2 separate regions of the Homo sapiens genome follow, and region 1 is linked to region 2. The links come from fine-mapping of genetic effects on gene expression. Tissue or cell type: whole blood. Region 2 holds a variant in brackets; the other region holds the start of a gene. All regions are shown on one strand. Distances are from middle to middle.

What was found. PIP is the estimated chance that this variant, and not a neighbour inherited with it, causes the effect.
Region 1: KDM2B starts here. The variant in region 2 is fine-mapped to the expression of KDM2B in whole blood (TOPMed, PIP 0.99).

What each region holds. Positions count from the first base shown.
Region 1 is chr12:121,579,129-121,584,234 of GRCh38, forward strand. KDM2B (lysine demethylase 2B) reads right to left here and starts at 1,895. Exons shown (of 23, transcript NM_032590.5): 1 at 1,658-1,895. The coding sequence starts at 1,783. It overlaps KDM2B-DT (KDM2B divergent transcript), which reads left to right and starts at 1,383. Exons shown (of 4, transcript NR_183427.1): 1 at 1,383-2,135. RefSeq lists silencers at 1-16, 1,176-1,485, 1,566-1,615 and enhancers at 1,185-2,120, 3,056-3,991, 3,992-4,925.
Region 2 is chr12:121,440,768-121,445,767 of GRCh38, forward strand. KDM2B (lysine demethylase 2B) reads right to left here. Exons shown (of 23, transcript NM_032590.5): 14 at 4,508-4,651; 15 at 3,683-3,769; 16 at 3,245-3,505; 17 at 2,913-3,026; 18 at 2,225-2,263; 19 at 1,390-2,069; 20 at 303-466; 21 at 49-210. It overlaps MIR7107 (microRNA 7107), which reads right to left and starts at 3,585; the gene lies at 3,506-3,585. The variant A/G (reference allele first, on the strand shown) is at 2,653.

The DNA of each region.
Region 1 (5,106 bases), 140 kb after region 2:
ACCCCGAGGGTCCAGCTGCGCTCTACGCGGGGTACTCCCCTCCGGTGTCTTCGGAAGCACTGAAGGGACATCTGGGGACCCTCCCCTGCCCCCCGCCCCCGAAATGTGCTGGGCTTCGCCCACTCGGCCGGGAGCCTGGTTATGTAACCCGCGAAGGGGGCTCCGGACACGGGCTGGCGGGGCAAATGTAGGCCCCAGGAGGAGCCGCTGCGGCGCCCGGCTCGGCGGTAACAGCAGCCCCAGCGGCCGCGGCGGCAGAGCCGGGAAGCCGGAACCGGGGGCCGGCGGCATTTCTAAAGCTGGAGCCGCCCCCGAGCTACCGGGGAAGCTGGAAAGCTGAAATGGAAGGGCTGAGACCCCAGCCGCCCCCGCCGCCCGCCCGCCAGTGCAAGAAGAGGAGGTGGGGGGAGGAGAATCGGGGCTTGGAAGGGGGAGAGGCAGACGGCCCGCCACAAAGCTCGGATCGGAGACCCCAAAACGCACCAGCAGCTGCCTCATCTCCCCACAAGCGCGCGCGCACACTCACTTCCTAAGGAGACTCCCCCACCACTCCCCGCATCCCCCTGCCTCCTCCCTCCACCGCCCAGCGCCCGGCCCCTCAGCCCCCCAGATTCCGGGCGAACCCCGAGCCCGCTCAGCCCCCCTCCACGCCTTTCCCCGATACCACCTCCCCACTTAAGTGTCTGAGACTCTAAGCCTCACAAGGGGCTGGAGGAGTAAGCAGCTTGCTTCCTTTTGCATGCAATTTATTATATTTTTTTCCCGGTCCTCTTGCAAAATACAGAAAAGGAAAGAAAAGGCAGCGAGAAACAACCAAAAAAAAAAAAAAAAAGATCTATCATATGCCAGATACAGATTTGGAAAAAAAAAAAAAAAAAAAAAGCTACACACCAATCTTCTTCCAGAGTCTTTCTCTGCCTCCATTTTTTTAGGAGAGTTCACCAATTAATTGTCAACACTCCTGCCCCCTGCATTTTGGCCGAGGGGGGAAGGAGGGAAGACCAAAGAAAACAAACCAAAAAATAAATAAATAAAGCAAGCCAGAGCCGAGATCTACAAAGTTTTGCACCAACACTTAGGCAGATCCGTTTGCAAAGTCCTAGGAAACCATTTTCAGCAGTTGTGGGGGGGGGGAGGCGTCGACGTCATAATCCCCGGAACGTAAACATTGTTGCCGATCGCGCTCGGAGCCCGCGGCCGGGCTATTTGGGGGGGCTCTCGGCCCGGGCTTGGGGGGGTGGGGGCGGCGGCCCGAGGAGGTATGGGGCGGGGAGGGAGCCCGGGAGGCACCGGGCGCCGTTAGCGCCGTGGCATCGCTGTTTTGTTGTTGGGTCACGAGTGCGCCTCTGCACGCAGGCGCCGCCGCCGCCCGGGAGTTGTGTGCAGAGCTGACTTTTGGAGGGCCGAGTTGCAGGCGGCGGGCGCATCCCGGAGATGGCGGGGCAGGGAGGGAGGGAAGGAGGAGGGGGCGGGGAGGGAGGTGCAGATTTGCACGGCTGGCCTCAGCGGGAGGCGCGGAAATGCAAGCCGAGCATGCTGGCGTGAAAGCCCCCGGGGCCTGGCACCCCCAAAAACGACCCCCCACCTCCGTTCCTGCCCTCATTGCCCAGGGCTACCCCTCTTCCTCTTCTTTCATCCACCCCTCCCCCAACATTACCTGTGTGGCCGACTCAAATTCAAAGCATTTTGTATATATAACTGTTTTCTTTTTTTGCTTTTCTGCTGCATGTCTTTTTCGTGGGGGGTGATCCTCTGCAGATCCCCCCATTTGCGGACCCGCCATGTGGAGGAGGCATTTGGGGGGCTCAGAAGGAAATTAGCTCGGCTTCCATACCTATAAGGACTGCCTAACTTTTAAACTCCCGGCACTCAAAGATGTGGACACACACACGTACAGGAAATACAGCCAGACCAGAGCCTTTGCAGTCCGCAGCTGACCGGAAGACGTTGCCTTTCATTCATTCATTCTGCCCGCCTCTGTGGACTCCTTTACTAGGCGACCAGCCCTGAAACAGAAGTTGGACATTTTTTAAAGGTTCTTGCGCTCGGCAAGGGGAGCAGATAGATGCTCAGGAGCGAAAGACGCAGAGAATTGGATCTGGCGCCTCCTAACGCAGCCCGCACAGGAGCGAAGGGTAAGCCCTTGTTGGTAGTTTATAGAAGACAAGTCGGTGGAAAGGTGCATGGTGCTCTGGGATAGGTGGGGGGAACTCTAGTGCCCTTGATGAAGCCCCTACAGGGCTTCTTAGCGGAGGTATCGGCACCCTCCGTACATACATGGGTGTCATTAGGTCCCTGTCCACTTACTAGTGTTTTTGACTACCCCAGCACTGGTCCTGGGTTGTCTTGTCCTCCCATCATGAGCAACAGTCAGGTCGACTTGGCTTGAGAAAAGCTAGCCCTAAACATTCCTCCAGCCCCAGCTGTGGCGCCCTGCTAGGCCTGATCTTGCGGGTAAAGATGCTGATAAAATGACATGGCAAGAGGGAGACGATAAAGGGACATTGTAGATAGCAGGCTTTGAGCCTGACATTTTATTTCTGCCATAACCCTGTGGGATACTTGGAGCAGGTCATTTTGCAGATAGGGAAACTGAAGCTCAGAGAAATTATGAATCTGAATGATTGCTGTGCTCCCATATGGTCCCCAGGCTATCAGACAGACCTGTGGGGAGGACGTGGCTTCCCCACCAGGAGATACGATGTCACTATCAGCATCGTATTGGCCGTCCTAAGAGACAGCTTCCCCCTCACTCACCTTAGAAGTTTCCTGTCCTATCTGACTGTAGTCTTTCCCACCCATCCTCAAAGGCTACTCTTTGAAGTTTGTTTTCATTCATGTTCACTAGCTGTAAAAATCTTTTAAGCAGGGATGAGGCTGGGAAACATCAAAATTTGTTTCCAAACTGAAATCGCCCACGTTGGCTGCTGCGTGCAATCAGTAGCCCTTCGTGTGAGTGCTGCCGGTTCTGCCTTCAGTCCGTCCAGAACCATGGACCATTTTATTTGTTCCTGTCTTTCTCACAAGAACCCTTTAAGGGAAATCGTCTTGTTCGTTCCCATTTTGCAAAGGAGGAAATTAGGACTAAGAAAAGCAAAGCCACTCACCCAGGATCACATAGCGCGTATGTGCCGCTGCCAGGGCTCACACTGGAGCCTGGCTTGGCCATCACGTGCTTTTTTTTTTTTTTTTTTTTTTTTTAGTAACTTACCAGCCTCACTACTGCCCCATAATGAAATAAACATGTTCAAAGGAGGCTGCATGGGCTGGAGAGTGACGCAAAGTGAATTAAGTGAAATAAAGCAAAAAATATATAATAGAATGCTTCATCTAATTAATTCTTTTTTCTCCCTGAGGCCCTTCTTTCTCTCCAAGTGGCCTCATAGTGGCCCCAAAAGCTGGCATCAGAAAAAGGTCCAATGGCAGCCACCTTAGTATAAAAACAGTTAAGTCCATCTATCACCTCCACGAGGAGTTCCTGGCCTGTCAGAGTGGGAAGGGGCTGGGTAGTCACCTCATTTAATCCCCCCCCTTTACAAACCTCGAGGAAACCGCAAACACGAGAAAAGAATGGGCCAGCCGGGGGTTTGTTCCCCTTGGCCTCCCCCAGAATGCCTGCCCTGCTGCCGGGTCCTAAGTGGCCACTCAATAAATGTTGGGCCCTTGATGAATCACCTTCCCCCTCGATATTTGCATTTTCTCTTTATCAGTAATTGGCAGATGAAAGGCTTTGTCCTCCAGTTGAAAGAATTCCAAGCATTTGCTCAAAGTGGGGGAGGAGGTTATTTTGGACCAAAGGGGGAAGGGCCAAGACCCTGGAGCTCCCAGTGTTGACTAATTGTCCCAGAGAAGTGGAGAGTAGGTAAGGGAAGAGAGAAGGTGAAGGTGCTTACCCCAGAGATGTACTTTTTCTTGCAGGAAAACACCGGGCCGGTTGTATTGGAAACATAATAATAATTATTTCCTGGACCCTCCTGCTCGATCTTACAAAGGGCCCAGTCAAATCCTGCCTGAGTTACCCCCATTCATTCTTCATTCATCAAAGGTTGATTGAGCAACTCTGTGCCCAAAGACAGAGAGGCTAGAGAAAAGAAGATGCAGCGTGGGGCATGCAGATTGGGGCATACTCGAGGCTGGGTAGGACGATGGACCTGCAGCTTCCCAAGGAAAGGGTGGACACTGGATGTAGCTCTCAGAAACCAGAATCTTGATAAGAAATTGAAGTTGTTCTCATATTCATATATGATTATCATAACTCCTGATTTTTCTTTTCTTTTTTTTGAGAGAGGGTCTTGCTCTGTTGCCCAGGCTGGAGTGCAGTGACACAATCTCAGCTCACTGCAACCTCCACCTCCTGGACTCAGCAATGCTCCACCTTAGCCTTCCAAGTAGCTGAGACTACAGGAGTGCACCACCATGCCCAGCTAATTTTTGTATTTTTGGTAGAGACAGGGTTTTGCCGTGTTGCCCAGGCTGGTCTCCAACTCCTAGGCTCAAGTGTTCCTCCCACCTCGGCCTCCCAAAGTGCTGAGATTACAGCCGTAAGCCACCACACCTGGCCCTGTTTTGTTTTAATTTAAGGATATCTAATCATTCCACATCAGCATATGTGGAATGCTATAGCACATCAGCTATAGTTTCCTTATTCTTTCTAATGATTTCATAGCATTTCATTGGGCAGATAAATGGTGCAAGAATGATTTAATTAGTTCCCTAACTTTTAGATGGTTTTCAATCTTTTTCTATTGCAAACAGAGCTATAAGGGATTGCAGCTTTGTGCTTGAGTCTGTCAGTAGAATATATATCTGAAAGTGATCATCCACGTCTCAGGATTCCTACCCTATCACCAACTATTTGTCCTTGAGAAGTTTATTTGTAAGATCTGAGCAGGTGGGACAACCTCATATCCAACTGGTATCCCCAGGAGTCTACGCAGTGCCATGCCCTTGGCAGGCACTCAGAGAGAGTGGTTTAAGGGCTAACACTGCAAGCATTCACACTGTAATCAGATGGCCTCTTCTAGGAAACCTTTGCTGATATCCTTGGCCCCCTTTCCCCATGGACCCTTCATTCATTCCACAAATGTTTGTGGAAGGTTGATTAGG
Region 2 (5,000 bases):
TAGCTCGCTCACCCCACCCCCACAGAAACCCCCAGCCTGGCAACTCACCTGGCCTGTTGTCTGTGGGCGGGGACAGGAGATCCCGCATCTGGGCATCCTTTAGTCCCTCCACCCACTGGACATCCAGGGTCCGGAGCAGCGGACAACTGGAGCTGCAAAGGGCCGAGACCGCGATCCATGAGCAGCCTGACAGCACCAAGTCCCGGAGCCCTGGGGGGACATAGAAAAGGGTGAAGGTCAGGGGATGTGTCCCCAGCCCTCACTGCAGCAGACACACTCGGGGCCACTGGCCCAGGGCTCACCAGGCAGCCGGTTGATGAGCCAGCTCAGCTGCTTCTTGGAGATATTGGTCCAGCTGAGGTCGAGGGAGACGGGCTGTCGCCGGATGATGCCACTCAGCATCAGGGGTGTGATAGACTTGCAGTGGTTCAGGTCAATGCGGGTCCACAACCGCTTATCGCAGCACCTGGGGACCGGCCCCGTGGGGACACATCGTCAGAGGTGGGGCTCCTCTAGGGAGCCCACACACAGCTCTTAACTGTCCCCACCTAACAACCTCTGGGAGGCTCCTTAACTCAGCGCTCTGGACCCTTCTCTATGTAGCACCTATCCTGCCCCCACGCGGGCACCTCCCACCTGCTCTAACAGCCATGGCCTCCACTCTCCATCAAGTATGTATGTATGTATTAAGACGGAGTCTCGCTCTGTTCCCAGGCTGGTGTGTAGTGGTGCAATCTCTGCTCACCACAACCTCCGTCTCCCAGGTTCAAGCTATTCTCCTGCCTCAGCCTCCCGAGTAGCTGGGATTACAGGTGTGCGCCACCACACCCGGCTAATTTTTTTATTTTTAGTAGAAATGAGGTTTCACCTTGTTGGCCAGGCTGGTCTTGAACTCCTGACTTCAAGTGATCCGCCCGCAAAGCGCTAGGATTACAGGCATGAGCCACTGCGCCCGGCCTCCATCAAGTATTTACCATGGGCTTTACAACGCCCTCTACCGGCCGTTCCTCCAAACAACCCCCATGAAGCTGGCGTCATGCCCGTTCATCCAAGAGGGTAAGGCAGAGCTAAGGCCAGAAAGCTGGTAAATATCGGCTGGACTGAAGTTGCAACTCGCAGCCTTGCTGGAAACCTGGACTAACTCTCCGAAGCCAAGGACTCCACGTGGTCCTCACTTCACCCTCCAGGAAGCTAAATCGGAATAAACGGGGTCACCTCCTCTGACAAGACCAGAGGGGCCGCTGTAGCCAGCTGGAACGCTTTGCGGAGCACAATGAAGCCATACTGGGGTTTGGAAGGAAAGAGCATCGCCAGCGACTCCACACACCACGGGCCATCCCTGGTGCCGCCTGAGCCTTAACCTAGAGCCCTACACAGGCCGCCGCTCACCAGCGGTTCCAGGTCCTGCAGACCCGCATGCACACACACAGGTCTTGGTGGCTGAGGTAGCTGAAGACGGCCATCCACACCTCCCTGTGCATGACGTGGGCTGCCCCATCGTCCAGGGGTAGCGAGTCAGGCGGGGGGCTGATGGGGGGTGGCCGGATCACATGGCGCTCCATCTGGATACACTTGGGCGGGGACACGGAGGGTGGGGGCCGGGAGATGACACGGGGCGGGCTGCGCAGGCTGGGCCCCAGCTGGTGCCGCAGCTCCCGGGGGGTGCCGTTGAGCCCCTTGCTGAAGCGGTGGGGACGCTCGCAGATGCCCGGGGGCCGCTTGGGCTCCTCGCCCTCGCTCTCAGGCTCCGACTTGATGGGCTGCTGGTTCTCGTTGGCCAGGCTGTTCTCCGTCCTCTGGATCTCGTGGTTGAGCTCCTTGCTCAGCTCCCTGCTCAGCTCCTTGTTGGGAAGCCGCCGCTTCCGGCGCATCTTCACCTTCTTCTTCTCCTCCGGGCCCTCGGCCCCTTCGGTGCTGGGTCCCGCGGTGGGGGAGCTGGAGCGGGAGTGGTCGCTCTCCCTGGTCTTGGGGGGCGCCTCGGGCAGTTCGTCCTCGGGTTCCTGCTTGAAGCGCCGGAGGGGCTTGTTGGCCAGCGCCATGCGGTCCTCGGCGTTCTTCCAGGACCGCCGCTGAGGGCGAGAGCGGAGACGCGTCAGCCTCTGGGGCTCAGGGCTGCGCCCGCCCAAGGCCTCCCGCCCCCCTGCCACGGGACTGTGGCCCAGGGAGCTGCGGTGCAGCTCTAACCGCTCAGGCCTGGGGCACAGGAGGGAGGGGAAGATGGTACCTTTTTCCTGAAAAGCTTATCTTCTTTGCCAGGTTTGAGCTGTCACGAAAAAGAAAGGACGCAGAGCTTGCTCCCCGGGCTCGTGGGATTTGGTCTCCTCGACACCCCACCCCACCACGAGTCCACAGTCTCCAGAGGAGGGGCTGGAGGGAGGCCTTCCCCACAAATGCCATCTCCACGTCTGACCGACAGACGGGCGAGCCCTGCCTGCAGCTTTCAAGGAAGAAGCTGGAAGTAGGAGTACAGTTGAACTGTTCCCACCCAACTGACCTCCCACCCCACAGACCTGGAGATGTGCAGCCGCCCATTCAAATCATCCTCGGCTCTGGGAGCCAGTTCTGGAGCACAGCCCTGTGGGAATCCCCGGCCCAGCAGGAATGGCTAGAGCTGGGAGAGACTCCTGGCGCCACCTTGTGGCTGGTGACAGC[A/G]CGGCCCGTGGGTGGAGCAGGGCCACCAGGCTCCTCAGAGGTTCCCTGGACTCACAGCTTCCATCCCAACCAACAGAGGCTCTAGGCACAGACAGCTTCCCAGGCCCCAAGCCAGAACCACGAGCCAGAGATCTGGGGCCGAGACCTGGGAAGCCTCAGGAGAGGCAGCAGTGGGGTGGAGGACCAGCGGGGTGGGGTGGGGGACAGCCCAGGACTCGCCAGTCCCCGGGGCCTCAGGAGGGCGTGCGTCGTGGGAGCACCTGCTGCTGGAAGTAAGTGAGACTGGATCTCCACCAGGGGCTGAGGCTGCTGCCTAGAGGGGGCCTCGGCGAGAGGTGAGAGGAGGAACCGGGGGACGTTTGAAGCGATGAGGCCTAAAGGGGGGTGGAGTGGGAAGAGGAGTGACTCGCTGGTTTTCCCCTCCTTTCTTTGGGGCAGGGCTCTCAGGACTTAGGTGACCTGCTCAGGGCAGCAAGAGGCCGGGATTATCCCAAGCTCTACCTGCTGCCCACCCCCTGCCCCATCCCTCCAACCCAGCACCCGGGACCAGCCAGACCAACCCCTTTGCCTCCCAGCCCCTCCTGGTCCGTACCCGCTTGCGTCCACTCAGCTCCTGGGGCTTCTCGTATTTCCGCTTCTTCCTCAGGTGCACGTCGTCAGACTTTCTGCGCAGAAGGCCGTCCGGCGGCACCTTCTTCGAGTGCTCATCCGACCTGCGCCGGGGCGCCTCCTCACACTCACTCCTCCGCTTGGCAGGTTCCTGCCCTTCCTTGTTGTCCCGGTTCATCTTCTGCTCCTTGAGCAGGGAGCCGGGCAGGTTGGAGGCGTACTTAAAGCCAGGGCCACGCTTTTGCTTGTAGGCCAAAAAGAGAGAATGAACAGACCAACTGTATACCTTTGGACTTGCCCTTCCTCCTCCCCAGGCCGACGGCAACCCACCTGCCTGAAACTCCTGGGACAGGCTGGTCCCGGCCAGGCCCAGGCCCGCCCCTCTCCCGACTGACCCTGGGACTTGGAGCCCGGCACTCACTTTCCCGGTCTTGCCGGCGTGGTTACACTTCGGACACTCCCAGCAGTTTGGAAGCTCGTCGTTGACCACACCCTCTGACTCCTTAATCTGCGGGGAACACCAGGACTCAGAAGAGGGACGGGCGGAGAAGATGGCCCACGGGCACAAGGCTCTGTGACGCCACGTCTTCCAGAAGCAGCAGCACCCCCTCCCCAACGTCACATCTATCCCGTTTCCAGGCAAAAGAAAACACAGCTGCAGAGGCTGGCAGAGACGGGCAGCTGTGGATCCAGGCCAGGGTTCAGAGGCTGAGCCCCTTTGCTTCTCTGGGACCCTGGGCAAGACACTCCGTCTCTGTGGGCTGGTGCCCTCGGCCATAAAAGTTAGTGTGCCCATCTCACTGGGGGGGTATGACCCAGGTAAAGCCATGAGCTCAGCGCCTGGCATGCAGAAAGGACTCTGCAGAGGACTCTACTGGGTGCTGGGGGAAGGAGTGTGGTGTGGGGCCTTGTTCTCCCAGAAGCCTGGAGCCACCTGGAGGCGCTTCCTCTGGCCCAGCTACAAACAAGCAGCCTGTGTTTGCCATCTGCTGAGGCTCTGGAAACCCTCTCTGGTTCTGACATCCTGGGAGGTGGGGGTGTGTTTATTCCTTTGATGACACTGGGTCTCTGAGGTACTCCAGGCCCTCCTTGCCCCGGGCTTATCCCTTGACACACAGGATCACCCAGACTCAGGGGTCCTCCAGGAATTCACTGCACGACCTGCATCCCACCATCTCACCAGCATCTCCAGCAACCCTACCTGCCCCAGAGCGTCAGCACCACCTGTCCCCACTGGGCCACTCACCTTAAGGCATCCAGGGTGGATGATTTCATTGCAGATGGAGCACTCCATGAGCATGAGGTTAAACTTGCCTTCCTCCTCTTCCACCGTGTCTTCCTTCCCCGCCTCGCCACACACAAGGCACACGGCGGTGTGGGGCAGCACTGGCTGAGGAGCCAGGGAGAACAAGACAAGTCATCAGGGGTGGGGAGCACGGACCCCCAGGGGGGCCAGTTCAAGGGCAATGAGCTGCTCCCCTTGGGCCTGCCAGGAGACCCCCGGAAAGTGGCCCAGGCACATTCGCTCACTCATTCATTGAAATACGTATCAGGCTACTACCTCCACATGCCAGATACTACTCTTAATTGCTGGGGATACAGCAAGGAACAAGACAGCTCAAAATCTCTGCCATCCAGAGCTTACATTTTAGTGGAGGGAGGCAGACAAAATGGACAGAGCATGTTAGAGACAGAGACATGGGGAAAAATTAGAGGGCTGGAGTGAGGGGCAGAAGGGG